7 separate regions of the Homo sapiens genome follow, and all the other regions are linked to region 4. The links come from fine-mapping of genetic effects on gene expression. A gene starts in region 4. Each other region holds a variant in brackets. All regions are shown on one strand. Distances are between the middles of the regions. Region 1 overlaps MCCC2 (methylcrotonyl-CoA carboxylase subunit 2). Region 2 overlaps LINC02197 (long intergenic non-protein coding RNA 2197). Region 3 overlaps LINC02197 (long intergenic non-protein coding RNA 2197). Region 4 holds the start of NAIP (NLR family apoptosis inhibitory protein). Region 5 overlaps LINC02197 (long intergenic non-protein coding RNA 2197). Region 6 overlaps BDP1 (BDP1 general transcription factor IIIB subunit). Region 7 has its middle 400 kb from the start of SMN2.

Region 1 (4,069 bases), 590 kb after region 4:
ATGTTGCCCAGGCTGGTCTCGAACTCCTGAGGTCAAGTGATCTGCCCGCATTGGTCTCCCAAAGTGCTGGGATTACAGGTATGAGCCACTGTGCCCAGCCCAGACCCCATCTTTTAAAAATGAAAAAATTTTTTATCTGCTTATTTTTCTTCTCACACCCCAAAATCACGTTGATACCTTTTCTTTAAAGGAAACAAAAAAAGAACACTAAAATGATGCCAAAAGATAAAGACCTTTTCTAGCTTCTGCTGTTTTTGAAGCTTTTCTCCCTACCTGGGTGGCTACATTTTTTTCCCCCTTTGAGATGGAGTCTCACTGTGTCATCCAGGTTGGAGTGCAGTGGCACGATCTCGGCTCACTGCAACCTCCACCTCCTGGGTTCAAGCAATTCTCCTGCCTCAGCCTCCCTAGTAGCAGGGACTACAGGCATGCACCACCATGCCTGACTAACTTTTTTGTATTTTTAATAGAGATGAGGTTTCCATATGTTGGCCAGGCTGGCCTTGAACTCCTGACCTAAGGTGACCCACCCACCTCGACCTCCCAGAGTGCTAGGATTATAGGCGTGAGCCACCGCGCCCAGCCAACATTCTTAAGGATTGGCACATTGTCTTCATTCTAACTGCTCACTCCTTCAAACCTCCATGCCCTACGAGAGTTTCACCAGCCTAGAGACCAGATTCCCACTCTGCACAGCCTCTTGGTATCATCATTTTTTTCCTTTTCGTGAAATTCTCCTTATGCTTCATGCCACTGGGGTGCCCTTATTTATTTATTTATTTTAACGATTTAGCCAGATCTCATTACCTGTCATCTCCCTGATCTTTATCTAGTCTTGACCACCTCTACATCTCTACTTTTGAACCTCGGGGGTTCTGCTTTCTCAGTCAATTTCCTGCTGGTACCTTAGTATGAAATAATAAGAAATATACACATTGATCTCTGTCCCCAGTTCCAGGAACAGAGCTCCTAAAATCCTCATAAGTTTCTGAGCAGTAGGGGCACTAGGAGGCTCTTTTGTTCCAATATTTGGTGTCTGCCCCAGTTCCTCCGACAGAGTTCCTAATACCCTTGTAGATAGGGGTACTAGAAGAATCTTTTGTTCTATGATTTGGTCTTTGACCCCCATTCTTGTCACAGAGCTCCAAAATCCCTTGGAATTTCCTGGGTGATAGGAGCATCTTTTATTCTGATGAGGCGACTCTTAGTGGGCTCCTGGATGGTGCTGGTCACCAGAAAGACCAAGCCATGACCATAAACTTGGAGCTTTCAGTCCCAGCCCTATCCTTCAGGGAGGGAGAGGGGCTGGGGATTGAGTTAATAATTGACCATGCCTCTGTGATGAAGCCTCCATAAAAATCCCTAAATGGTGTTCAGAGAGCATCTGTGCTGGCAAACTCATCCAAGTGCTAGGAAGGTGGTGCATTCCCACTCCGCGGGGACAGAAGCTCCAGCCCTCAGGACCTTTGCAGACTCGCCTTATGTATCTTTTCATCTGGCTGTTCATCTGTATCCTTTATGATATCCTTCCTAACCAGTAAATGTAAGTAAAGTGTTTCCCTGAGTTCTGTGGGCCACTCTTGTAAATTAGTCAAACCCAAGGATGGGTAGTGGCAGCCCTGATTTACAGTCAATCAGAAATATAGGTGACAACCTGCTCCTTGTGGATTGGCATCTGAAGTGAGGGCCATCTTGTAGGACTGAGCCCTTAGTCTGTGGGATCTGATGCTGTCTCTAGGTAGACTGTAAGAACTGAATTGGATTAGAGGACAGCTGGTGTCTGCTGGAGAACTGCTTGGTGTGTGGAGAAATACCCCCACATATCTGGTGTCAGAGGTATTGAGTGACTGTGTCAGACAGTAGGAAAAACACTTTTTCCTCTGTCTTTTCAGACTTAGGTTCAAACTAGACATTGAACACATTAACTTCCCCTACTCATTTGTTCCCTCACCTGAGTTCCCATCTACTGCTAGCACTACCTTGCTCTTTCCCTAGGACTTGATGTCATCCTTGGCTCTTTTCTCTGCATTTTCCCTTACTTAATCCTTTTAGGTCAAAAATATACATCTTTGACATTTTTGTATCCCTGGCAGTTGCTCTGATGCCGGGCACAAAGTGAACACATCCTAAGCCTTTGCCTAATATATTGATGAGTCCTGTTGGTTTCACCCTTGGGCAGTTCCTCTCCACTCTGTTCCTACTATCACCCCCAGAGGCAGCTCAGGCCTTTGTTACCACTAGACTGTGGCTCTAGCCTCACCTGCCTGGTGTCCCTGTCTGCCTAGTCTATCCTTTCCCATACAGTGGACACATGCTGCAAGGTTATTCTTTATGTGGCCCTCCT[G/A]TTACTATTTGCTACAAAACAAAGCTCATACTTCTTAGCCCGATACTTAAGCCCCCGTGTGATCGGATTTCAACCTAACTTTCTAGCCTTATTGCTCCTGGACCCTAAACTGCAGTCAACCTGATGCAGTCACTGGTCTCCATATATACCATAGCCTTTTTTGACCATCTGCTCAGGCCCATGCTGGTCCTCTTTCCCCTCATCCTCCTGGGTCGGAGTCTCCAACCCATCTTCCAAGACACATCTCAAATGCCACCCTTTTAAGGAAATCCCGGAATCCTTTACTGGAAGTAATATTTTCTTCCTCCTAGCTCCCATAGTTCTTGTACTGTGCCTTACTAATAGCATTTATCCCTTTAATCTAGATATATCTGGACTAATTTCCTCTACTAGTCTGTTAGCTACTTGAGAATAGGGACAATTTAGATGAATTTTTATATCCTCACACATTTCCCTGAGATGGTACTTACTTAATATTTATTAAAAGATAAATCTCCTTATAACTATTAAAGTTGTAATATGATAGATATTGAGTGGTTCTGTTTCCTAAGTTTAATGTTTGTTTTGTTGTTTATTTAAGACTTTGGTTTAGACAGACTGATAAAACAATTCCTTATGTTTATTATATAAGTTAATCACTTCTAACTTCAATTATGTTATGTATTTATTTCGATAGTAAGCACCAGCTTCCTTACTCAAATTTAGTTGTTTTTCTCTCCAAGGTTGGTTTTTATTTAATGTTACTAGCCTTGCCCATTGTAAATTCATTTACCTAGTTATTTCAAAGAGTATGTCTATTGGCAATCATACCCGTATCGTTTTCTGTATCTTTGCTGCTATAAAAATGTGGACAGATTACTATAGACCTTCCAGGTTTCAACATTTTCTTTTGCTCTCAAGGAGAAAAGATAGTTAAACTAGGTACTTACTTTTATGTTCTCTTCTGTTTCATCTTTCCTTCATGGCAGATTTTAAGACCCCTTAATCGTTTCTGGAGTTTAAAGAGTTGATGTGTGGGTGTCTGGTGGTCTTTCTTTGAGTCTCATGTCATGAGAATGCCTTCTCTGGGCCTTCTCCATATCTGAGGCCTGATGACATGATGATCTTTGCAATGTTCTTCTTTTATTTTCCCAGTGGTGCAGTTTAAATGTGTCCCCCAAAAGTTTATGTGTTGGAAATGTGATTGCCATTGTGGTGATGTTAAATGGTGGCACCTTTGGGAGGTAATTAGGTCATGAGAGCTCTGCCCTCATGGATGGATTAATGCTATCATTGTGGGAGTTTGGCCTTCGTTTGCTCTCTGTCTCACACACACTTGCCCTCTCTTGCCCTCCCACCTTCTGCTGTTCCACCATGGGATGACTGTCAGATGCCAGTGCCATGCTCTTGGATTTCCCAGCTTCCAGAACCGTGAAAAGTAAATTTCTTTTTTAAATTCTTTCTTTCTTTCCTTCTTTCCTTCTTCCTTCCTTCCTTCCTTCCTTCCTTCCTTCCTTCCTTCCTTCCTTCCTTCCTTCCTTCCTTTCTTTCTTTCTCTTTCTTTTTGTAGAGGTGAAGTCTTGCTGCTCAGGCTGGTCTTGAACTCCTGGCTTAAGTTATCCTCCCACCTCAGCTTCCCAAAGCATTGGGATTATAAGCATGAGCCACTATGCCAGGCCAAATTTCTTTTCTTTATAAATTACTCAGTCTTGGGTATTCTGTTATAGCAGCAGCAAACAGTCTAAG
Region 2 (4,069 bases), 300 kb after region 4:
CTACAAGGTTCAGTGGTGGTGAGGTCTGCAGTCTATCACTGCTCAGCCCCATGGACTTGGCCCCTTTTCTGGGGAGCGTGCAAGAAAACTTGGCCTTCCCAATTGCTGGAGCTGCAGCCCCTGGTTTTGGGGTACCCAGGGAACAAATGCTACTGGGACTCCACACCTACCTAAGAAGCAGCTCTACCCAGACTCCACATGGCTCTCTGTTTTGGTCTGGAGACCCCAGCTGGGGTATCTCCTGAGCCCAGGGATTCAAAGGTTCGTGGCAGAAATATGCATCCCACGGGACTCTCACTCACTCACCATTTTCTTGTAGGGGGATTCCCCTGGGTCTGTGCCACTCCTGGGTGAATGGTTGATCTGTCTCACTCTTCTCCGTGATCCGAAGGTCACACTATGTCACTGATGAATCCTTATGTGTCCACCTGGATGTTCCGGTTGAAGAGCTAGTGTCTCACCACTCTTCCTGCTATTTGTGAGAGTGGCACACACTAGCTGCTTCTAGTCAACCATCTTGGCCCCACCTCACTCACTTTTCTCAAGTAATCAAAGACCTAGTAAAAGAGAGCATAAAGCATAAGAAATTACCTTGATAAACAAAAAATCTTGGTTTATTAGGCCAGTTATCTAAAAGGTAGAGAAAACATTTCACTATTGTCTATTAAGAGCAGGTCAATACTCAAAGAAAAGCTTGTTGTTTCAGCACAGGGGACAAATTTCAAGTTTTCCATTCCTGTACTTTTGATAATAATGCTCAAGTTTTCAGAATATTTATAAATAATTTCCTTTTAACTTTAGCCAACTTGGTCACACATAAAATTCTTTTCACAAGATTAATCTTCCACAAACTTTCTATAAATTTGTCATCCAGTTATCTTATTCAGTTTTTGTCTATATTTTTTCTCTTTTTCTTTTTGGAACAGTAAGACATTCTACTTTTAGACAAAAAATACTCTCTTTTTCCCTTAACAAAAACACAACCTCTTACTTATAACTTTCTGTATGTGTTTTCCTTCCCTCACGTACAGATTTGTTTCCCTTCATTATTTCTAGTTTAAATTACTCTAATATTAATTTTAATTAACTCTTAGTAACCTTAATTTCTAGTGAAAATTAGTAAGCATTTTGAAGTGCATCATGTTAGTATTTTGCAGATGAACACCATCTCATAAAATAATTTTTATGCCTTTAATTAACAGGCCCAAATATGTTTAGCTTTTCCATAACATGTGAAACCAAGATGCCAAATTACGTATATTTTAAACTTCTGTTAAGCAATTGATATTTCAGTATTTTCCTTAGAAATGACTCAAATATTAAATCAGTAAAGTGTTACTTAATTTAATATAACATGATTTTAAGATTTCAAGTCACACTAAATTATTTTTGAAATTCTGACAACTTTATTATCAACCTTTTGTCAATTTATATTCACCTAATTCACTTGTTCTTAACAATTGTGCTTCAGTTCCTCCTTAAACACAAGGATGAGTGGATTTATAGCTTTAAGACATTCATTATACATCTCAGTAATAGCAAGCTTGTTTCACCAGTAACTTTAGGTTTAAAAACTGTATCTGTACATTGTAATTAATGCTGACAATTCTGAAAATATTTGTTTTTATTTTGCCAACAAATTTTAAAACTAGCTTTGTCTGCCAAAGATTATTTCGTCACATAAGCCAAAAGGCAATTGAGTTTCTGTTTTTCTGAGAGAATTCTTAGTTTAAACACTTATGTTTTCTCTGTAAGCCAATTAAGTAGAGCCGTTTATGAATTTTGGTAGAAAAAATTGTACATACGCACACACACACACACACGTAGAAAAATACAGACAGAGGAAGAACTTACAACTTGCATTAAGAATTGTTATTTGCCTGGCTTGCAAGTAGTTTTACTCCCTCTTTCAGACTATCTGTCTTTTAATGATCT[G/A]TTCAATTGGCCCATAAACAAGTGTTAGTTAGGCCACCCAAAATTTGTACTTCCAAAGAGATGATTTTTAGGTGAAGGAATGTAGAAAATTTAAATCTCAAAGGTACAGAACTTAAACACCACTATTTGTTGAGATGAAAAAAAGCATATATAGGAAGCCTTCAAAATGAAATGGTCAAGGGTGAGTTTACACAGATAGATAGATTTAGGTCTCTTCCTTTTGCTTTGTGAAAGCATCTAGTGTTTTAGGTGTCAGAGAGGGAGATATCCTTACAAAGCAGAGATTATCATTACAGGTTTACATTTCTTACAAAGAGTTTCAAAATAAACAGGTAAATGCCAAAAACGTATATTTTGGAGACGGATTAATTCACTAGTTGGTCTATTCAACTTAACTTGTTTCCTAATGAGATTAAATTCATGCACAAATAACCAAACCAAAAATTAAACCAAAAGAATACTCACCAGAAAGGATGTCCTTTACAAGAGCAGATCCCCCAAAATGTAAGAGTTCACTGAAAAGGTGGGAGCTCAAACCAAGAGAGGACTTATCTCGCAGCATAAAGACAACTTGTACAAGTGAAGATCACAATAGGCTCAGGTGAGTATCATACACAATTTCAAGTATCGCCAGATACTTGAAAGCCTTCCAAAGGCTTTCTTTGTTACTGTTTGGATAACAGTGCTGTAACTGTAAGTAACAAAGAAGGCTTGGAGCCTTTGCATCTTGCTTCTGACATTAGATTATGTCAACTTAAACAACAGAGATACTGACTCTCTAAAATAAAGAGTGTATTCAGGAAATAGCAGTAAATTGCAATTTGAAATACACATGCTATGGTGGACCTTAGGCACCAAAGAAGCTGAGGGACTGTATTAGTTTGTTCTAGCACAAAGAACTACCTGAGACTTGGTAATTTATAAAGAAAAGAGGTTTAATTGACTCATGATTTCATAGGCTGTACAGGAAACATGATTGGAGGAGGCCTCAGGAAACTTACAATGATGGCAGAAGGCAAAAAGGAAGGAGGCACGTCTTACATGGCCGAAGCAGGGGGAAGAGGGCAAAGGGGAAATACCACACACTTTTCAACAAGCAGGTCTCATGAGAACTCACTATCACAAGAACAGCAAGGAGGAAATCCACCCCCATGATCCAATCGCCTCTCACCAAGCCCCTCCTCCAACATTGGGGATTACAATTCGACATGAGATTTGGGTGGGGACACAAATCTAAACCATATCAGGAAGGCAAAAATCTTAAAAGAGAAATTTTATGTAAGTTTTGTAATAAACCTCATGGGCCAGAGAAGCTTGTTACAAGAGTTGGCAAATACTCATTGATAATATTGGCTGTTGCTGGAGAGATGTCTTCATAGAATTATCATATCTAACATTTTCGTGGTTTTTGAGAGAACCATTGCAGCAGTTCTTATTATAGACATATGTACATGAAGGCCCCTCTTTCATGGCCTCCCAGCTTCATTTTTTTATGGTTTGATGTAAGTGACTCCATTTTGGTGCTCACAACTTCCACATTTCTCCCTTTTGGTTGAAATATTTTTCTGAAAGCATTTCACACTTAAAAGATATAGATTGGCCGGGCATGCTGGTTCATACCCGTAATCCCAGCACGTTAGGAGGCGGAGGTGGGTGGATCACCTGAGGTTGGGAGTTCGAGACCAGCCTGACAAACATGGAGAAACCCCATTTCTACCAAAAATACAAAATTAGCTGGGCGTGGTGGCACGTGCCTGTAATCCCAGCTACTCAGGAGGCTGAGGCAGGAGAATCACTTGAATCCAAGAGGCAGAGGTTGCAGTGAGCTGAGATCACGCCATTGCACTCCAGCTTGGGCAACAAGAACGAAACTCCATCTCAAAAAACAAAAACAAAAACAAACCAACAAAAAATGAAATAATTGTAAAAACCAACTATAGTTCTCAGTAATGATAGTTTCATTACCGTCAGCTATTAGTAGAGTTAATTAACTCCTATCAACCTCACATTTTCCATTTAAAAAATGCAGGAGAAAAAGTTTGATGTGGGTTTAATGAGAAAATTTATATAAAATAGATCTAACTACTATATTTATCACAAAACAGATGCACAAACTATGTTTTTTTCCTCTCAC
Region 3 (4,069 bases), 350 kb after region 4:
TGTACATGAAGATACTAGCTTTGAATGAAACAATGTCAATTGCAAACTGCTGTTCATGCTTAATATAAATTCAATTATGAACCGAAATCCTTTAAGACAAAACAGGGAACCAGGTACTCTTATAACTTTTCTCCCAATAATTTGATTTTTTGGAAAAATTTAGTACCATATAATTTTCCCCCAAATATTACCTTTATTAAAAATAATAGTAATAATTCTGGAGAGTTATTTACACTGTGATTTATTAAATCAATCCCTATGATTTAATGTAGTGATGAAAGTGGTCTTTATATTTAAAATGTGCATGTTATATTGCCAGTTTTTACTGAGCACATACATTGTCGGCTAATACATACTCCTTTGTAGGTGAGTGTTTAGCGAAGAAAGCCATTGCTCCATTGGCAAATTAGCGTCATTAGTTGAAGGAGCCCAAGGGTTTAAATTGCAGGAGGTTTGCAGGAAGCATGTGCGCTGGCAGAGCTGTGTGGTAAGGCATCTGCAATAACCGTCTACATTATGCTTCCATTTAGGTGGTGTCATCACTCTGTCACTTTCATCTATTCCATAATTTGCACAAAAAGAAAGCACACCACAACAACTCTTTAAATTCCAAAAATGTATGGTAAACTGTCAGTTTCTCTTGTATGAAGTTGTTTATCTCAGGATTTTACTTGGCGTGCAATTTCTCAATAGACGTATCCTTCCTTCTGAAATGCAAAGGAAATCCCATTGATCAATAGGGGTTGCAGTACTTATCAACATCACAACGGAGACAGCTTAATTCCTCAGATTAGCATTTGGCTCAGATCAGCAAATGTTTTCTGAGAAATTACTATTTATACATTTAAAAGTATCCAACTTCCCTATCTTCCTCCTATCAGCTCAAAATATAAGCCCGGGCCATGTGGCTGCATCTTAATCACGTTCGAGCTGGAGAGCCATCAGTTGAAAGCCTGTCTCAGTTCATAGATACGAGAGATTGTAATATTTTAACATTTCCTCCTGCCAAGTTGCTAAGCAATAAAACTATCTTGGCACTTTCCTGCCAGTTCATCATGAAGAACTACTTTAGTTTAGCTTAGTCTCTTGATGAAACAAATGGAAGGCAGCTGCACCAAACGGCCTTTCAGAAACGTGTTGCCAAACAAATCCCGGGAACTTTCACCCCTTTGCATAGCTAATTTAGATGGCTTGAAGCAGAGAAATCCCATGTTAGTATCAGCATAGAAAATCAAGTCTTAAATATGAGTGATTAAAAATTATACAAACAATAGCTCATCATAAATTTGCCGAGTGCTATTGTCCCATATTACCTTTCTCCAAGGTATACCTAAGTGTGATGATTTCTCAGCTAAAAAAAGGCACATTTTTCATACCATAAAGTCAACTTAAGTCAGACATACTAGACAAGCTACTGGCTAAATTTGAAATGTATTTCTACTTAATTTTTACTTAGCTTTTGAGAGTTTTGATTACATAAGTAATGCCAAAAGAATGCCACACAATAATTTCAAACAACAGAGAAATGTATACATTTAAAAGTGTATAAAGTAAAAAGAGAAGTAAGTTTCCTTTCGCATTCATCCAATCCTGTATATTTGTATGTGTTTTTTCACAACTGCCTCTGTGCATGTGTGTATGTGTATTTGTGGCTGCATATGTATAAACTAAGAATTTTAGTCTATAAACTTACAGCAAATATTGACACATTTATTTATTGCTGTTATTGTTTTTATTAAAATTGAATCATATCCTGAGCCCCCAACTTGCCATTACATGAACTAAGTTCTTCCCATCTCAGGAATCAGAAAATCCCAAGAATCTTTATCACAACAGAATGTTCTGGGAGAGTCCCCTTGGATTTAGGACACACAGGTCACCAAGGAAATGGCCCTGTGCAAACTCACACCATCATGTGAAGTGGACATCTGCATTCTAGTGCTACACAGACTACACCATCTGCTTCAGAGAGTTTGCAGGTGATCTTCTCTCAGTCTGTCCTCCTCACATTTCAGGTCCTTCACAGAGCCAACTCCTGTTCACTGTTATCCTCAGCCTGAAATCACAAAGCTTCCTTATGTAGGCCTTCTTTAT[C/G]AACTCAGATTAAATTAAAACCTTTCCTCCCAGTGGACAACAAGGCACTTTTTAATGTATCCATTATCATACTTCTCAAATTTATTTTTGCCAACTCTCTGCTTCCTTACTAAACTATGGTATCCATAAGCGTAGCTTACAGTGCTCAACATTTATTCATTAATTGGACAGATACTCACTGAGCTTCTACTATGGTGAATTGATGTGCTGGATGCTGAGAATAAAACTTCTATTTGAATGGCATGATTCTCTCTCACTGTCCCTACCTTTGAGACAGATGTGAATAAAAAAGCCACACATTATTACTTAATTAGAATGATAAGTGTTATACTATCTATGTGAGTAGTTGGAGCAAGTTAGTCTAGTGAGAGAGGTGAGTGTTTCAGGAAATTCTCTGGAAAAATTTGTATGTAAGTTGAGACCTGAGAAGTAAACACAACTTCATTAGGAGAGAAGAGCATCCTTAGTTCTTTAGTGAGACTGGAAGGTGTGTGGAGTAGAAGCCTTAGAGAGGAGGAGGTGGTGGAAACACATTCTGAAAGAAGAAGTATTCTAAAGCCAGGCTGGCCAGCAAGGATTTTATATTACCGAATCTTTTGGGTTTTTTTCCATGAGAATACTGTGAAGCCATAAGCAAGGCAGCAATATGAGTAGATCTGCAATTAGAACATGATGGTGGACTTGGCCAAGATGGTGAAAACAAACAGAATAGAATTGAAAAATATTTTGGAGTTAAAAATAGGAGAATTTATCGATTCACTGATTGTGGGTCTGAGGCAAAGAAGATAAAAGTTAAAAAATATAAGAGGAAAAGCAATAGTTAACACTCATAATGCACTTGCTAGGTACTAATCATTAAGTTTCTCACATGTATTAGTAGATTTAATTTGCACAATAACCATAAGAAGTAGGTGCTATTATTACTCAAACATCATCGATGAGGAAAGTAAATCAAAGGGTTAATAAATAACTTGCCCAAAGTTGTACGGCCATAGGGTGGTTTGGTTCCAGAATCTATTACTTACACATTACTCCTGGGCTTTTGGAATGAGAAACTGAGGATGGTGTTGCTATAAACTGGAACAGGGAACATTGGAGAAGCAGTGAATCTGGGTTAAGGCACAAGATGATCTTTGAACAGGTTGAATTTAAGGTGCCTCTGAGATAGGCAGCTAGAGATGACAGGTCTGGCATTCTAAAGTTGAATATAAACAGAAGATATCATTTTGGGACTTATCAAAGTAGAAATGATAATGAAAGCCATGAGATGCATGAAAGCATTCAGGATTACAGTATAGAGTAAAAAAAGAAAGCCTATATGAAGTAGAGGAAGGGGTATTGGCCTCATTGTCTAGGGAGGAACTGCTAGGGTAGTAGAACAATGGGATTATGCTGTCACAAAAAACAAAGAAAAAACATAATTTCTTAAATCATGGTCTGTCACTGAATCTGGTTATAAAACCTTATCTTGCACTAGAAGGATCTGTAGCTTTTCCAGCTGAGAATGGGGTTCAGGATACCGAATCAACACTAGAAAAGAGAGAAACTGGGGATGAAGAAAACTCAGCTAAATTTCCTATAGGAAGGAGAGATTTTGACAGTGAGTAGTTTTTCAAAATTCAGTTCTTACATCCTACCATTAAACATAACTCTGAGTTTAAGCAAATTTGGATGCAATCATAACAAAATCAAATACGACCATGGCTCAATTACACCTGCCAAAAATGTGGGATTAAGAAGTGTTTAATTAGTTCTTATCATTTTGGTTTACTCAGAATTAGTTATACTAGATCCATTATTCTTTTTTCTTAATAAATTTTGTGTGATAATTATAGTCCTTTAAACAATTTAAACTTTCTTCTTCCTTCAGCACTCAGATGTATGCTGGGAAGAGTCTACCAACGTTGCTGGCAAGTCTGATTCTTTTTTTGATATGGACCTGTTGGTCCATATCATCTTTTCAGAAGAAAAGCAT
Region 4 (4,069 bases):
CTACTTCAGATGCCAGCCACAACTATTAGGACCTCAGGGTACCCACACTTCTGTCTGAGTTCACTACAAATCATGGGTATCTGCAACCCCCTCAGGTTCGATAATTTCTTTCTTGGGGGTTGGGGGAGTTTAGGAGCAGAGGTTTAATAGGCAAAAGAAAGAAAAACGAGAACAGATCTCTCCCTTGTGAGGGGCTTCCGAAAGGAAAATCCGGCCTGCGGTGGACTGCACCAGATTTTATAGGTAGGCCTGAGGAGGCGGCGTCTGATTTGCGCAGAGCCCACAGGTTGGTTTGAACAGGTGTGACGTTTACATAGCACGCGGGGAAGGTTGGGCGCCCCACCCTAATCTTACTATGACAAAGGGCAGAGTGACCTTGACATGCCATGTGCTTTCCAGAGCAAGGGCAGAGAGTGACGCTCACTGTGGTGGGAGAGGAGACCCTCTGTTCCTAGAAAATCACAACAGCATGCCCCTGTGCTATATCCCTGGTTACTACAGCAGTCTTTGTTCTTGCCTAACAAGATTACTTCCCTGAACTGTAAAACTCCCTCAGTACTGCATACAGAGAGAGGTTAGGAGACATGGTGGTCGTGGATAGGAAATGAGGGAATTATGATAGGAAAGTTGGAGGTCCTGTTGCCGACACCCCTTAGGGTGGCCGGAGGCTGGGGTCAGTCCAGAAGCCTTCGGATGGCACCAGGAGGTAGCCCCAGCCAGAAATCCTCAGTTGCTCCAGGACCTCTTCCAGCCCCACACGACAGCTTGGTCCTCCGTGAAAGGAAACTGGTTCAAACATGGCCAATATGCCCAGCAGCCCGTGGGTATTGGGGGGTTCTCCATGTTCTCCCCAGCAAGCCTGTCCCCCAAAACTTGTAAGGCTGGCAGCCACGCTCATAATTTTTAAATGGCTAATTGGTGAAGGCAGAGTTTTCTCATTCACAGAAGCAGAAGGGGGCCCAGTATTTGGTTTGGTTTGATTCTAAAATGGAGGCCAAGAGCCTCGAAATCAAAGGACAGAGTTGAGGTCCGCCCCTTTACTCACCTTTGCAATGAATGCACCTTGGAATCCCAGACGAAGTCCCCAATATGAAGTGGCATTGTTGTCTGGGGTCAATACCCGGGGTTCGTCGTCTCGCACCAACAAGGTTAAGGACACGATACACACGAAGAGTGGGTTTAGGAGCGGAGGTTTAACACGCAAAAGAAAAAGGAGAACAGCTCTCTCCCTTGTGAGAGAGAGCGGCTTCCGAAAGGAAAATCCCAGGTTCGATCGTTTCTTATAATGGCTCACAGAACTCAGAAACTTTACTTATGTTTACTGCTTTATTATAAAGGATACAGATGAACAGGCAGTCGAAGAGGTACACAGGGCAACGTCCAGAAGGGTCCCAGGTGAGCACAGGACCTTTTGTCTTCATGCAGTTTGAGGTGCATCGCCTTCTTGGTATGTGGTTGGGGTTAACCAAACCGAAAGCTCTCCAAACCTGTGGTTTATTTTTTAATGGAGGTGCCATCACTTAGGCATGATTGGTTAAATCACTGGCAACTGGTGGTTAATCAATCTCCAGCCCTTTTACCCTCTCTGGAGGTCGAGGCGTGGGGCTGCAAATCCCAGACCTCTAATCATGCCTTAGTCTTTCAGGGGATAGCCCCCATCCTGAAGTTGTCTAAAGGATCCCAGCCACCAGTTAGCTCACTGTCATACACTCTTATCACTTGGAGATTCCAAAGGTCTTAGAAGCTCTTGTGTCAGGAACCAAGACCAAGTATTCTAATAAAAGATGTTTCTATCACCCCTGTCACTCAGGAAATTACAAGGGTTTCTGGAGATCTGTGCCAGGAACTGGATGAAGATCAAATATATATATTTATTATATCACAATATTGCAGCCTACTACTTGCCAGGCACAATTCTAAGCACTTTACATGTGTCCACTTAATTCCTTTAACAGTCCAAAATCAGCTATTGCTATATCATCTCCATATTACAGATAAGGAAACTCAAGCACATAGGGGTTAAGGTTAACCAGTGATCTGGCTAGTCTGTACTTTTACCTGATGTTGTGCTGCCATACAGACTAGATATATTTTTTTTTTTTTTAGACTGAGTCTTGCTCTGTTGCCAGGCTGGAGTGCAATGGCGTGATCTCAGCTCACTGCAAACCCAGCCTCCTGGGTTCAAGTGATTCTCCTTCCTCAGCCTCCCCAGCAGCTGGGACTACAGGCACATGCCACCTCGCCCAGCTAATTTTTGTATTTTCAGTAGAGACAGGGTTTCACCATGTTGACCAGGATGGTCTCGATCTCTTGACCTCGTGATCCGCCCACTTCGGCCTCACCAAATGCTGGGATTACAGGCGTGAACCACAGCACCCAGCCAAGACTAGATTTTTAAGAAAAGGCAATCCAGATATCCTAGAAGGTTCATTTCCTCTTTTTGGTGGTTTAGCAAATTTCTTAGTAAGGCTTCTAGCTGTTATAGCAGCATTAGTATGTGAACCACAGTTAAGCTCTAGTCCAACAAGGCCATTTCTTCAGCAGAGAAGCAATTGTTAAATAATCGACCAAGTATTCATTGGCTCCCTCTTTTTGTATCAACATACACAATTGTTACAGTGCCAGTGTTTATTGGAACCACTTTCCATGGTGCATCCAGCTGTGCCTAGACCAGCAGGTCTTTTTCCAGAAGTCCAGATGGCAGGGGAACCTCTTCACGTTGTTGACCCTTCTCCCTGTAATTTTTTCCCCAATAAACCTTTTCATTATGTTGCTGTATTTATACCCAAATACACATTACATTTATTTTAGTACCTTGTACATTTTGTTGCCCTTATAAATTGGAGGGGTTTTAAAAACTATTTTTTATTCTCAATATTCATTGATGATGTATAGGACTCCTTCTGGACTGTTTAATATATGACTGTAAATCCCCCTGAATTTTCTTAGATGTTTGTAGTATCTGATTATGACAGTTTTGTCTTTTATTTATTGCCTTGTTGCATTGATTAGGTCCTCTAATATAATGTTGCTTAATAATGAAGATAGATATCCTATCTTATTCTTGACTTTTGGTATAAATTCTTCTAAAGTTTGAGCATTAAACATGATGTTTGATGTAGATTCTTAGTGGATACTCTTTAGCAGTTAAAGTAACTTCTCTTTTACTTCCAGTGACACTACTACCTAATTTGAAGAGAGGATTTGGAATTTTGAGTTTCAAAATAATACTGTTTTCAAACACTTTTTTAGCTAAAAAGTACACACACATAGGGCAGTGTTTTAAAGTTTAGCTACTTCAGGGCATATGTGTATACTCACTGAAGTTTTAATTTAATGGCTTATTGGTCATTCATGTATCTTCTTTGGTAAGGTAATTAAATATTTTTCTTTTTTTTTAAAAGACAGAGTCTCGCTCTGCCGCCCAGGCTGGAGTGCAGTGGCACAATCTCAGCTCACTGCAACCTCCGCCTCCTGGGTTCAAGCGATTCCCCTGCCTCAGCCTCCCGAGTAGCTGGGATTACAGGCGCCCACCACCACGCCCAGCTAATTTTTGTATTTTTAGTAGAGACAGGGTTTCACCATGTTAGCCAGGCTGGTCTCGAACCCCTGACCTCGTGATCCACCCACCTCGGCCTCCCAAAGTGCTGAGATTACAGGTGTGAGCCACTGCACCTGGCCGTAATTAAATTCTTGACCCATTTAAAAATTGCGTGTTTTCCTTTTTATTACTAAATTATAAGGATTCTTTATATATTTTGCATACTAGTCCTTTGTTAGATATTTACATTGCACATATATTCTCTCAGTCTGTTAACCATCTTTTCATTTTCTTAATGGTGTCTTTCAAAAAGAAGTTTTTAATTTTGATGAAGTCCAATTTTAATTTTTGTTATGATTGATAGTTTTTGTGTCCTAAGAAATCACTATCTACTCTAAAGTTGTGAAGATATTCTAAAAGTTAACATTTGTATTGTACAATATCAACTGTTAGTTGAGGATATGGAGCAACTGGAAGCTCATACATTAGTTGTGGGAATGTAAAATGGTATTAATACAATGTCTTTGG
Region 5 (4,069 bases), 340 kb after region 4:
TGAGGGTACAAGATGAAACTCAGTAAGATAATACACTCTATTCTTAGACTGGCAAATTTACATAGTAAAGAGAACTTTTATCATTGTCATCCAAAGAAAATATAATCCTAAGAGAAAAAGTCCAGCTAGTTTTTTTTTTCTTTTTTGTTACCTGCTCATAGGATATAAACTTATTTCTATCACACACAGGTATCATTTTCTTCTATTTCACACAAATGTGTGAAATAAAACACATAGAAGAAGAAATAAAACACTTCTTCTATTTCACACAAATGACAAAAAATGTCCTTCAATTATTTTGACACACGATCTCTCAAGATACATATCCTTTTATATCAACTATAAATACAAATTTAAAATTTTGATAAAAGAGAAATAACTGGAATAAAACAAAGCAGTATTTTTTAAAACTATAGCTGTTCCCCTAAGATATTCTCACACTAAAGAATTTTTCCCAATTCTTCTCCCCCACTGAGAAGTACAGTCTTCAAAAATTAGTCCAGGTATTAGTGTTTACCAAGGAGGAATATTTTGAACAAGAATAATCTGATGCTACTTTTCATTTGTCAAGTACATTTTCTAAATTATATTCTAATAAGAGAGAATATGCACATTTGCATGTCATGATTCTTATAAATATTTACTGAGTACTGTCTCTCTGTAAAGAACTACAGTGGGATGGATTTAAGATATATAATACATAATTTTTCATCTTCAAATTGTTCACGTTTTGTAGAGATAGTAACTTGTGCATAAATGACTAGAATGTTAAGTTGCTAAGTGACAAGTGACAAAAATGTTTAACCTGTAAAATCTTCCCCTTGGGAAATTGAGGAATAAAAACTTCCAACTAAAGGAACAAAGATTGTCATGAGCAAAGTTGTATAAAAAATAAATTAAATGTAGGATAATAAAGGTAGTGTATTAAAGTGAGAAGGGTTAGGGTTTCTTAGGTGACAGACTGGCTTGATTTTGTGACTTGTGTGATGGAAGCAAGTTATGTAACACCTCTGAGTTTCCATATCTTCATCTGTGAAGTAGACATAGCTGAACCAACCACATGGAATTGTTGCGAGGGTGAAATGCAATGGTGTGTGCAAGTTTCTAGGCAGTGTTGGACTGGATCTACTATTACGCTATACAAATGATACTTAGAATTTTTACAGTTATGCTTAATATTGTCATAATTCCAGGAAATGAGAAAAATCTCAGCAGAGGTACAAAACGGGCAAGCTCTGGGCAAAATGATCTTAGTGGGTTTATTTCAAAGGATGCTTGAAAGTAATCTGTGGAAAACAAAATTGACAAAAAGTGCATGTTGAAATGGAAATTAACGGGTCTTTGAATGTTAAGACAAAGATAGCGGGCATGCTCTTTCATCTGTCTATCCCTGGCCCTTAGCATGCCTGGTGCTTTTCAGTGCTCCAGCTTTACGTGTTTAATCGTTTTTGTTTCATTCGAAATAAGTGTTCTCATAGATATAGAAAACCAGCAGGCAATAAAATATATATTCTGAGCTGTGATTTAGTGGTATTATTACTTAGCAACAGTGTGTAGGATGAATTACAGAAAGCAAAAGTAGGGCATAATTATAATCACTAAGACTAATTATCAATATAAACTTTTGCCAGAACAATTGTAAATATATGGAGAGGTGATGCACATGAAAAACACATTAAAATACCCTAGGATTTTGCCAAAATAAGCTGTGTAATAAAACAAAGGGAGAAGAAATTGAAGAATATGATGAAGTTTAAATTGAGGTTCAAGGTGTTTTGCATGAAGAAAGATGAGAAATTTAAATTTGAGATATGATGAGTTTATGGTAGGAAATTGAGATACCATATTTTGCCAGTTGGACTAGACCTCACAAAAAGACTCAAAATAAGTATGCAGAACGCATTAGTTTAGATATATTTGAAGAGACCATGGGAAAAAAGGAAAAAGGGAGGAGTTTAAAGAGTCAAACAAAAAGATGATGGAAAGGCAGTGGGAGACATAAAAGGGAACCAGAAATCTTAAGAGGAGAAAGTGTTCTGAAGAAACACACAAAGTCAATTACTTAAAAAGTTGAGAATCACTGGCAGTGCTGGATGATCGTGACTTTTTTCTCTATTTCAGTAAGCGGGCGATGGACATTAGAATGCAAGAGATGGATGAGGTATGGAAGTAGAAGGAATAAAT[G/A]TCAACTATTATTTTAAAACATTTGCACAGAAGAAGCAAAGTAGGATAAGAGCTTAAAAATAAAGGTTCTGTTTATTTTCATTTTGTAGTCGTAGGGAAAATGTGAGCATGTTAAAAGAAAAGCTGAGTGTAAAAAGGGAATGAGAGGACAAATTGAAATAGACATGGGTTCAAATCCCAGATCCCACTGGACATCTCTGAGGCTTACTAGACATCATCTGTAAATATAAGATAAACACCTAATATAAAATGTGTTCAGCTATAAGAAGTTTGAGTTAGTGTATATGATTTTTAGAAAATCAATTTATCATATACAATAAAACATATATTAAATTAGACAGTTTGATGCATATTGACAATTGTATATCCCCTGCACATTTCCATCATATATGAAAACTTCTCACATGCCCTCACCATCTCAATCCCTGATCACAGGCAACCACTGATGGAGGTTCTGTCATTATGTACAGGATATATCTTTTCTAAATTTTGTATAAGTGACATCATACATGTGCATTATTTTGTTTCTGTCTTCTTTATCTCAGCATCTTGTTTTTTGAAATTTGTTCTTATTGAGTACATCAGTGGTCAGCTCCTTATTATTGCTTAGTGTATTTCATTTTAGGAATAATGTTCATTGAATTTATCCATTTTATCCATTATAATTTTGAGGGAAATTTGGGGTTTTTCCAGGTTGGGGCTAATATTAAAGCTGCTATGAACATTCAGGTACGACTCTATGTATAGATATGTCTAACTGTCAGCTTCTACATAAACATTTTAAAAATCACTATCTCTAAGAAAACTAGGAAATCAAACATCTGGAATTCGGCATTGGCTACCAATTGTAGATGAAACATACTTTTTCAATGATTTAGACACAACTGTCACAGCTTACAAAATGCATCTTCACCAATTAGTTACCTAGTTAGGCTCTGCAGACTTAATTGTTTATCTCTGACCATAGTCCTAACCCAACTTGGCTCCATAGTTGCTGGGATAAGATAGATTGATTTTAGCTATTGGTATCAGTATTCTACTTCCCACATGCCTGTCGAAAAATGCTCTTAGAGTTTTAGAACTGGAATGGCAAAATTTATTTCCTGAGTGATTAAATGGCTCCACTCCTACTATTCTAGGTCACCTTGTTCCTTGTTGAGAGATAGCCACATCCTGAATGTGGCTCTTTTCTCTCAGCTTTGCACCCACTGTCAATAGGCAAATCTCAGTTGCAAGAAACTCTTTAGGTAGAATGGAAGTATTATTCTTTCTGCTACATGAACCTGAAGGAAGTATTCTCAGATTATCCAGACCTAAGGAAGGATACATTCATCTATAGCTCCCTCTCAATTTACAGAAATGTTTGGTTGGTAGAGAGTCTTGCCTAAGTATTTAATCTGGCCCAAGGTAAAGAAATACTGCAACCTCAGATCTACTAGCCAAGGGGAGCTGGGTTGTTTTGAAAGGCACTGTAATGTGCCCCCTTTTTCTTACACAGCAGTGGGCACGATTAGGAGGCAAAAACTTATGGAAAGGAAAACTTAAGTTCTTCCTTATAAAAATTTAAAACATGTATCTCCATGGAGGGCCTGCAAAGTCTTTATAGGATATTTTGCCTTTGGGAACTTCTTTTTTTATACTACTATTTCAATCTCCTCACCTCCCTCTCTGTCTCTATTTCTAATTAGATAGATCATAGATACAGGTATAGATAAACATAGATATATAGATGGAAGGCCTTGATTGAAAGTGCTACAACCTCCTTCCACTGTTGAGTGGAAGCACCTGCTTGAGGGATGTACCAGTTTAGTTAGGAGGAGGAAATGAGGAGGGGAGTCTGATGGAGGAAAAAAATAAAATGTTCTGAAGTGATTGAGAGCACAGA
Region 6 (4,069 bases), 520 kb after region 4:
GCCTGGCTAACTTCACCCTTTTTAGTGTACAGTTCTTCAGGTTTTTATAACTATGCAGTCATGTAACCAATACATGAACAGTTCCATAAAAAGTTCCCCAAGTGAGAGAAGCCTTGGACTTGAAGAACATGTATACATTATCCAGTTAAAGGGAGAGGAACGTGTGTGTAAAGAACAGGTGTGGACCGGTTGCAGTGGCTCACACTTTTAATGCCATTAAAAAAAAAAAAAGCCAGGCATGGTGGCATTTGCCTGTAGTCCCAGCTACTCAGGAGGCTGAAGTGGGAGGATCGTTTCAGCCTGGGAGGTAGAGGCTGCAGTGAGCTGTGGTCGCCATGCACTCCAGCCTGGGAGACAGAGTGAGACCCTGTTTCCAAGAACAAACCAGTATGAAACAGCATGTAAGCAGTATGAGTGGAATATTAATGAAGAAAGTGATTAGAGATGAACTTAGAAAGATAGCCTGCAGACAGATCATAAAAGGATTTTTATGACTTGCTAAGGAGTTTGGTTACATTTAAAGTTACGAGATTCCTTACCCCACCCTGACTTTTTAATTTTTACTTTTTATTTTGAAAAATTTTAAACTTAGAAGTTACAAAAATCTTACAAAGAATTATCCCATACACTTCACTTTGATTCATTAATTGTCAATATTTTGCCTCATTTGTTTTTTTACTCTGTCTTGCTCTCCATCTGTATAGATAAATACTTGGCTGGGTGGGGTAGCTCACGCCTGTAATCCCAGTACTTTGGGAGGCCGAGGTGGGCAGATCACCTGAGGTCAGGAGTTCAAGAACAGCCTGGCAAACAAGGTGAAACCCCATCACTACAAAAATACAAAAATTAGCCAGTCGTGGTGGCATGCACCTGTAATCCCAGCTACTTGGGAGGCTGAGGTGTGAGAATTGCTTGAACCCAGGAGACAGAGGTTGCAGTGGCCAAAGATCGTGCCATTGTACTCCAGCCTGGGCGACAGAACAAGACTCTGTCTCAAAAAAAAAAAAAAAAAAAAAAAAAAAACCAAAAAACTGAATCATTTGAAAGTAGGTTGAGTCCATAAATACCTCATCTTGTATCTAATAAGGACAAGGAAGTTCTCTTACAGAGAAAGGACAGTACTGTTGTCACACTCAGTATTACTACACTATTTAACATTGTCTCAACAATATGTAATATACAGTTTCATTCCAGTTTCCCTAGTTGTCCCAATCATGTCCATTATAGCTTTTTTTCTTTTTGAGACAGAGTCTTACTCTGTCACCCAGGCTGGAGTGCAGTGGCACGATCTCAGCTCACTGCAACCTCTGCCTCCCAGGCTCAAGTGATTCTTGTGCCTCAGCCTCCCAAGTAGCTGGGATTAAAGGTGTGTCCCACCACACCTGACTAATTTTTTCGTATAATATTTTTAGTAGAGATGGGGTTTCACTATGTTGGCCAGGCTGGTCTTGAGCTCCTGGCCTCAAATGATCTGCCCACCTCAGCCTCCCAAAGTGCTGGGATTACAGGTGTGAGCCACCACGCCTGGCCAGCTTTTTTTTTATTTTTCTTAAATTCAAGATCCAATCAGGGCTCTCACATTGCATTTGATTATCCTTTCTCCTTATTTTCCTTTAATCTAGAGTATTTTTCTTGTCTTTTTGTTCACAAAAGAGAAAAAGCAAGAGAAGTTTAGACCAGTCTAGGCTGGCCTACAGTCTGGATTTCTTTTTTTTAATTGCTTCCTCATTACTAGATTCAACTTACATATTTTAGGGCAAGATTACTATATAGGTAATAATGTGTTCTTCCTTTTATATCACATCGGGAGACACATAATGTCAGTTTGTCCCATTATTGGTGATGCTGACTGATCACTTGGCTAGAATGGTACCTACCAGATTTCTTCATTATAATGGCATCTTTTCCATTCTGTATTAGTAACTTGTCAAATGAGACCAACGCAGCAAGCTGTTACCCTGTAGTTTTAATATCCACTGATGATTCCTGCCTTAATCAGTTACTGACATTGTTGGTTACAAAATGAAAGTTTTAAGATTTTAAGCAGGCCAGGCGCAGTGGCTCACACCTGTATTCCAGCTCTTTGGGAGGCTGAGGCGGGTGGATCATGAGGTCAAGAAATTGAGATCATCCTGGCCAACATGGTGAAACTCTGTCTCTACTAAAAATACAAAAATTAGCTGGGCATGGTGGTGTGTGCCTGTAGTCCCAGCTACTCAGGAGACTGAGGCAGGAGAATTGCTCGGACCCAGGAGGCAGAGGGGCGGAGGTTGCAGTGAGCCGAGATTGTGCCACTGCACTCCAGCCTGGCGACAGAGCGAGACTGTCTCAAAAAAATAAATAAATAAATAAAATAATAAAAGATTTTAAGCAGTAGAAGCCCGGCATAGTGTCTTACACCTATAATCCCAGCACTTTGGGAGGC[C/G]TAGGTGGGTGGATCACTTGAGCCCAGGAGTTTGAGACCAGCCTGGGCAACATGGCAAAACCCCATCTCTACCCTTGAAAAATACAAAAAAATTAGCCAGGTGTGGTGGCGTGCATCTGTACTCCCAGCTACTCAGGAGGTTGAGGTGGGAGGATCGCTTGAGCCCAGGAGGCGGAGGTTGTGGTGAGCTGAGAGATTTTAAGCAGTAGAGAATTACAGTCAGGATTGCATTTTAGAAAAACCATGTTTGTGGTTTTTTGGAAAACAGGAGGGAACCATACTGCATGCAGGGAAAGCAGTTTGCCTTCATTCAGATGTCACCTACTAATAGTACAATGGCTGGTGTGATGGGAGTAGAGAAAAAGTTGTGGGGTTTGGGTCTCCCTATCCTGTCACTTCAAAAATCATTTCATAAAATGCACATATTTAACAATGTAGTCAGGATTCTTTGTATTAATATTTATTTAAATGAATCAAAAGTTTATTGGAACAGCCTAAAGCTTCAAACACTTGAAAACTGTATATGGTTAGATGTTGTTGAGTTAATCTCTTCACTATATCATATTGACAGGAATAACTTTTTAAATGTAAGATTTGGCCAACCTGACTCTTTCATTTTAATTTTTTATGGCAGTATACACCAACAAGTATTCCAGAAGTCCAACAAGAGAATATAATCAATCCTCAAGACCTAACAGGTATGATAATATGCTTCAGTGACATGTCATAGAACTTAGTTGTATGATTTTTACCCCTTATTTAACTATGGAAAAACATAAAACAGTTGTATTTTAGTCTATGCTGGCCTTAAATTTAAAACGTTTTATAGAAACACCTTGAAGTATTTTGTGTATCAGTTTTGTTTTTCAGAGTCATAAATCTTCTCCCTAGTATATCACCTTTATCCTTTATGAAATTACTTCTTGGGCCAGTCATGGTGGCTCACTTTGGGAGGCGGAGGTGGGTAGATCACTTGAGGCCAGGAGTTCGAGACCAGCCTGGCCAACATGGTGAAACACCATCTCTACTAAAAATACAAAACTAGCCAGGCACGGTGGCATGCACCTGTAATCCCATCTACTTGGGAGACTGAGGCACAAGAATCGCTTGAACCCAGGAGGCGGAGGTTGCAGTGAGCCGAGATTGTGCCACTGTATTTCAGCCCGGGCGACAGAGCGAGACTCTGTCTCCCCCCCGCAAAAAAGGAGGGAACTTACTTCCTCAGGCTGGGGGGTTGTTGGGGGGAGCATTTATTTATTTAGTCTTGATGATAAGTTGTCCTGAGACTGTCTTTTTAGAAATGAAATAAATTAATGATACTCTGTTATTTCATAGTTGAGCTTTTTTATTACTAACTTTTAAACTTTGATAGTGAATCTAGTTGCTAATGTACCTCAAGATGGAGAAGATGAACAAGCCTTTATTTTAACTCTGGTGGAAATCCCAGCCAATGCAGTAGAAGAATTTACTGATGCCACTGCACAGTTCATGCCAAACCCTTTACTGCCAGCTCCCATATTGGTCAAATCAGTGAATACCGAAGAAAGGGGTGACATGAGGTAACGAATGAGTGAAACTGTTTTTGCTAGGAGGAAAAGTGATTTATGAACTAAGTAGCATTGATTGAACAAACCATTCACCAAT
Region 7 (4,069 bases), 580 kb before region 4:
AGGCAGGAGAATCCCTTGAACCTGGGAGGTGGAGGTTGCAGTGAGCCAAGATCACACCATTGCACTCCAGCTGGGCGACAAGAGCGAAACTCCATCAAAAAAAAAAAGAACATCCAGGATTTAGGAGTCACATTAAACACTTACTGGCTAGCCGAAAACAATTATGTATCCATCTTGCTTTTCACACTTAAATCATTTAGAAGTCATTCAGTATCACCATATCTAGATCAATGTTGTTTTTGAAATTGTTGCATATTTCAGGTATAATTATGGTTTATATAATCAATTGCTTCCTGTTGGATATTTAAGATTTTTTTTTTTTGCTATTAACAAATAATGCTTATATCTATATTTTTGAACATTTGTACAAGTATAAATGCATGGTAAATTCCTAGAGGTAAAATTACTGAGTCAAGAGTTTTACATGTTTTGTGAATTTTGATAGATATTGTAAAGTTGTTCTTCAAAGAACTTTCATTTATTGTTTTCGCACATTTAGCCAACATTAGGTATTATGAAACTTTTTTATATTGGCCAAAACTCACAGGCAAAAGAAAAAGAAAAAAGTCTCATTGTTTTAGCTTGGTATTTATTTGCTTATGGTTGAGGTTAAATATAGTAAAAATGAAAAACCCAGTACTATAGAAGATAGAGTTGAAGAAATATTCCAGAAAGTACAATAAAAGGAGTAAAATAAAGAGGTTCAAATAGGAGAGTAAAGATAAGAATACTGGTGGAATTATCCAGAAGGTCCAATGAGAATGATACGAGAAAAAAAGAAAAAAAGTAGGATAGAAAATCATCAAAGACATAGTTCAAAGAAATTTTATATTGAAGGACAGAACTTTCTAGATTGAAAGGGCCTGTTGGCTGGGAAGGGTGGCTCATAGCTCTAATCCTTGCACTTTGGGAGGCTGAGACTGGGGGATCACTTGAGGCCAGGAGTTCCAGGCCAGCCTGGGTCACACAGCAAGACCTCATCTCTGCAACGAAGATAAAAGAAAGGGACTGCCAAGTGCCTAACGTATTGAAGGAAGGCAGACCCCATAATTGTGAAATTTCAGAATACACAATAAACCATTAACCCTAAACATTTCCAGAGAGGAAAAACTAGGTCACACACAAAGGATCTGGAATTAAAATTGTTTGGCTTCTCATTAGCAACACCGGATGCAGAGAGGGAGCAGTCACCTTCAAAGTTTGTGGTGAAAATTGTTACCAACTTAGATACCCAGCCAAACTGTCAGTTAAGTGTAGGTAGAATAAAGACATTTTCAGACTTGTAAGGTCTCAAAAAGAGATTTTTCTGGGGAAGGTCTGGAAGAGGTAGGTGATTCAAAGGAACTGAGAAGGAGAATGACATGGGATCTAGTAATATGTATCTAATTCAAAACAGGCTGAAGAACGGCCTAGGATGATGGTAAGGAGAAATTCCAGAATGATACCTGTGTGTCACATATGGGGAACCGTCCAGTTTGGAGACAGTCAGGATGCTCCAGGAGAGAGATCACCAAGGGGATGAAAACTGCAGAACTCCTGATGTATTTGAACATATCGAGAGGACAGTTAGACTATTCCGGAGAAGATTGGGCCTGAATTAGTGTCAATTATATAGGAAACTAACCTTGGGAATAGCAACACAGTATTTCCAGGAAAAAAAAAAATGTTTTAAATAGGGGAAAACTTATG[G/A]CTTAGCTGAGAATATTTTTATAGGCATAGTAAACTAAACATTGATTATTGTTCTATCCAAAAGGAAGACTTCACTATGTAGAAAGAATTGAGAATGACACTAGTTAAATATTTATGCATTACTGGGTTCAAGATGATTGAAAGATAATTAAATTCTCTTCTTTCATAGTTGGAGATTTATAGCCAATAACTGTGAAGAATCACAAAGTAGCACTTATTAGAATAAGTGACTATCAAACAAACGTTAGAAAGTGCTTCTGGCTGGGCATGGTGGCTCATGCCTGTAATCCTAACACTTTGGGAAGCCAAGATAGGAGGATTGCTTGAGCCCAGGCATTCGAGACCAGCCTGGGCAATATAGCGAGACCCTGCCTCAATAAAAAATTAGCCAGGCATGGAGATACATGCCTGTAGTCCCAGCTACTCAGGAGGCTGAGGCAGGAGGATCACTTGAGCCCAGGAGGTTGAGGCTGCAGTGAGCTGTGATAGCACCTCAGCACTCCAGCCTTTGAGACAAAGCAAGACCCTGACTCGAAAACAAAGAAAAATAAAGCATGCTCACAGTTAACCTTAATGAAAATAAAAACTAAATTTTGGGCTGTCAGATGACCTTGTATATACTGTGGAATTTTTTTTTAAATTATTGCTATTCTTTTTTTTTTTTTTTTTTTGTGAGTCAGAGTTTTGCTCCCGTTGCTCAGTGTGGAGTGCAATGACACCATCTCGGCTCACTGCAACCTCCGTGTCCTGGGTTCAAGCGATTCTCCTGCGTCAGCCTCCTGAGTAGCTGGGATTATAGGCGCCTGCCATCACGCCCAGCTAATTTTTGTATTTTTAGTAGAGACGGGGTTTCGCCATGTTGGCCAGGCTGGTCACGAACTCCTGACCTGAGGTGATCCACCTGCCTCGGCCTCCCAAAGTGCTGGGATTATAGGCGTGAGCCACTGTGCCTGGCCTATTGGTATTCTTAACTCTTTTTCCTGAAAGTCATGTGTAAAGACAAGTACATATTAATTAAAGGATTCTAGTTAGTGAGATTTTGTTGAACTATTTTAATGAGTAAATTCTAAGAAAAAACATTGTTAAACTTTTTTTTCAGATTTTGTTATGGATGTCAGGGGGAATTGAAAGACCAACATGTAAGTTCTTTGGCTTTCTAAATATTAAGTAATGTACAAGAAATATTGAAATCAATGGTACTATAAGTTTTCAACAGGTTGTTAAAGACCAGGCTCATATCAGTTTATTTCTTGTAAAGATAATGACAATAGGTGAAGGTAAAATAGGAACAAAATAGTTTAAATAGTAGTTTTGTTATTCTGCATTCTAATTTTTGCTATAAAGTATTTTGTAATTCATCTTTTTAAAACTTTTTATTAAAAATTTTTTAATTTTTTTCCTCTTTTTTTAAATTCTTTGATTGTTTTGTCTACTTTGGTACACCCTTGTAAAACATGTAATTTGTCTTTAGCTTTCAAGCTAAACTGCATTTAGTCTGAAAGTATTTAAAATATTTTCTTCATATTATACTTTAAGCTGTGTGATAACACATTGAAATTGTTTAAGGTGGCCACAGATAATAGGTGATTCTTCCATTATGCCAATGAGAAAATACTTTTTTAAATTTTGAAGAGGGCCAACTTTAATAAATAAATTTGTATAGATGTAAATAATATGGATCACTGTCTAGCTTTAATTTTTAATTTAGTTACATGTTCATATTTAAAACTATATATATTATATAAAATAATAATTAGAAGTATTGCTCTTCCACTGTCACAATTTATAAAGTAATTTTATTAAATTTTATATACCTCTTTGACATCAGTAGTTTACTCTTAACTGGAACCACTTTTTGAATCATTTGACAGTTTTTTGGTTTTATTTTCTGAGACAGACTCTTGCTCTGTCACCCAGGTTGTAGTGCAGTGATGCAATCTTGGCTCACTGCAACCTCTGCCTCCCAAGTTCAAGTGATTCTCATGCCTAGCCTCCCAAGCAGCTGGGATTATAGGCGTGCACCACCATGCCCAGCCAATTTTTGTATTTTTAGTAGAGACTGGGTTTCACCATGTTGACCAGCTGGTCTTGAACTCCTGGGCTCAAGCAATCCACCCGCCTTGGCCTCCCAAAGTGCTGGGATTACAGGCGTGAGTCACTACACCCGGCCTCATTTGAGTTTTTAAGAATAGGTCATTGTCTGTGTTGTTTGAAATTTATTTATTCATTCTTTCTTTTTTTTTTTATTCAAAGCCAAATACTTCTGAGATTTAGTGATTTTTGAATCTGTGTATGAAGCTGCCCTGGAAATTCTATCCCAAGGAGCAAGTACTCATATATGTAATGCTGAAAGAACAAATGTAGTTTTTTCCTTTCTGCT

What was found. PIP is the estimated chance that this variant, and not a neighbour inherited with it, causes the effect.
Region 1: its variant is fine-mapped to the expression of NAIP in whole blood (TOPMed, PIP above 0.99).
Region 2: its variant is fine-mapped to the expression of NAIP in whole blood (INTERVAL, PIP above 0.99).
Region 3: its variant is fine-mapped to the expression of NAIP in whole blood (TOPMed, PIP above 0.99).
Region 5: its variant is fine-mapped to the expression of NAIP in whole blood (TOPMed, PIP above 0.99).
Region 6: its variant is fine-mapped to the expression of NAIP in whole blood (TOPMed, PIP above 0.99). The same link has a PIP of 0.9 or more in lung and monocytes.
Region 7: its variant is fine-mapped to the expression of NAIP in whole blood (GTEx, PIP above 0.99). The same link has a PIP of 0.9 or more in aorta, lung, spleen, subcutaneous fat, tibial nerve and visceral fat.

What each region holds. Positions count from the first base shown.
Region 1 is chr5:71,614,684-71,618,752 of GRCh38, forward strand. The region is part of intron 6 of MCCC2 (methylcrotonyl-CoA carboxylase subunit 2); the gene reads left to right. Among named protein-coding and RNA genes, the nearest start is that of MCCC2, 29 kb to the left of the region's middle. The variant G/A (reference allele first, on the strand shown) is at 2,345.
Region 2 is chr5:71,320,859-71,324,927 of GRCh38, forward strand. It overlaps LINC02197 (long intergenic non-protein coding RNA 2197), which reads right to left. Exons shown (of 3, transcript NR_134269.1): 3 at 173-557. Among named protein-coding and RNA genes, the nearest start is that of LINC02197, 120 kb to the right of the region's middle. The variant G/A (reference allele first, on the strand shown) is at 1,936.
Region 3 is chr5:71,372,323-71,376,391 of GRCh38, forward strand. All of the region lies in intron 2 of LINC02197 (long intergenic non-protein coding RNA 2197), which reads right to left. It overlaps LOC105379025 (a long non-coding RNA gene), which reads right to left. Exons shown (of 2, transcript XR_001742723.2): 1 at 3,120-4,069; 2 at 1,714-2,056. It also overlaps the pseudogene PMCHL2. Among named protein-coding and RNA genes, the nearest start is that of LINC02197, 72 kb to the right of the region's middle. The variant C/G (reference allele first, on the strand shown) is at 2,095.
Region 4 is chr5:71,023,273-71,027,341 of GRCh38, forward strand. NAIP (NLR family apoptosis inhibitory protein) reads right to left here and starts at 2,067. Exons shown (of 17, transcript NM_004536.3): 1 at 1,343-2,067; 2 at 1,046-1,134. RefSeq lists promoters at 1-2,426, 1,831-2,195 and cis regulatory regions at 1,617-1,830, 2,196-3,660.
Region 5 is chr5:71,361,682-71,365,750 of GRCh38, forward strand. The region is part of intron 2 of LINC02197 (long intergenic non-protein coding RNA 2197); the gene reads right to left. Among named protein-coding and RNA genes, the nearest start is that of LINC02197, 83 kb to the right of the region's middle. The variant G/A (reference allele first, on the strand shown) is at 2,185.
Region 6 is chr5:71,545,623-71,549,691 of GRCh38, forward strand. It overlaps BDP1 (BDP1 general transcription factor IIIB subunit), which reads left to right. Exons shown (of 39, transcript NM_018429.3): 33 at 3,060-3,123; 34 at 3,798-3,984. Among named protein-coding and RNA genes, the nearest start is that of MCCC2, 40 kb to the right of the region's middle. The variant C/G (reference allele first, on the strand shown) is at 2,426.
Region 7 is chr5:70,442,695-70,446,763 of GRCh38, forward strand. It overlaps the pseudogene GTF2H2B. Among named protein-coding and RNA genes, the nearest start is that of SMN2, 400 kb to the left of the region's middle. The variant G/A (reference allele first, on the strand shown) is at 1,690.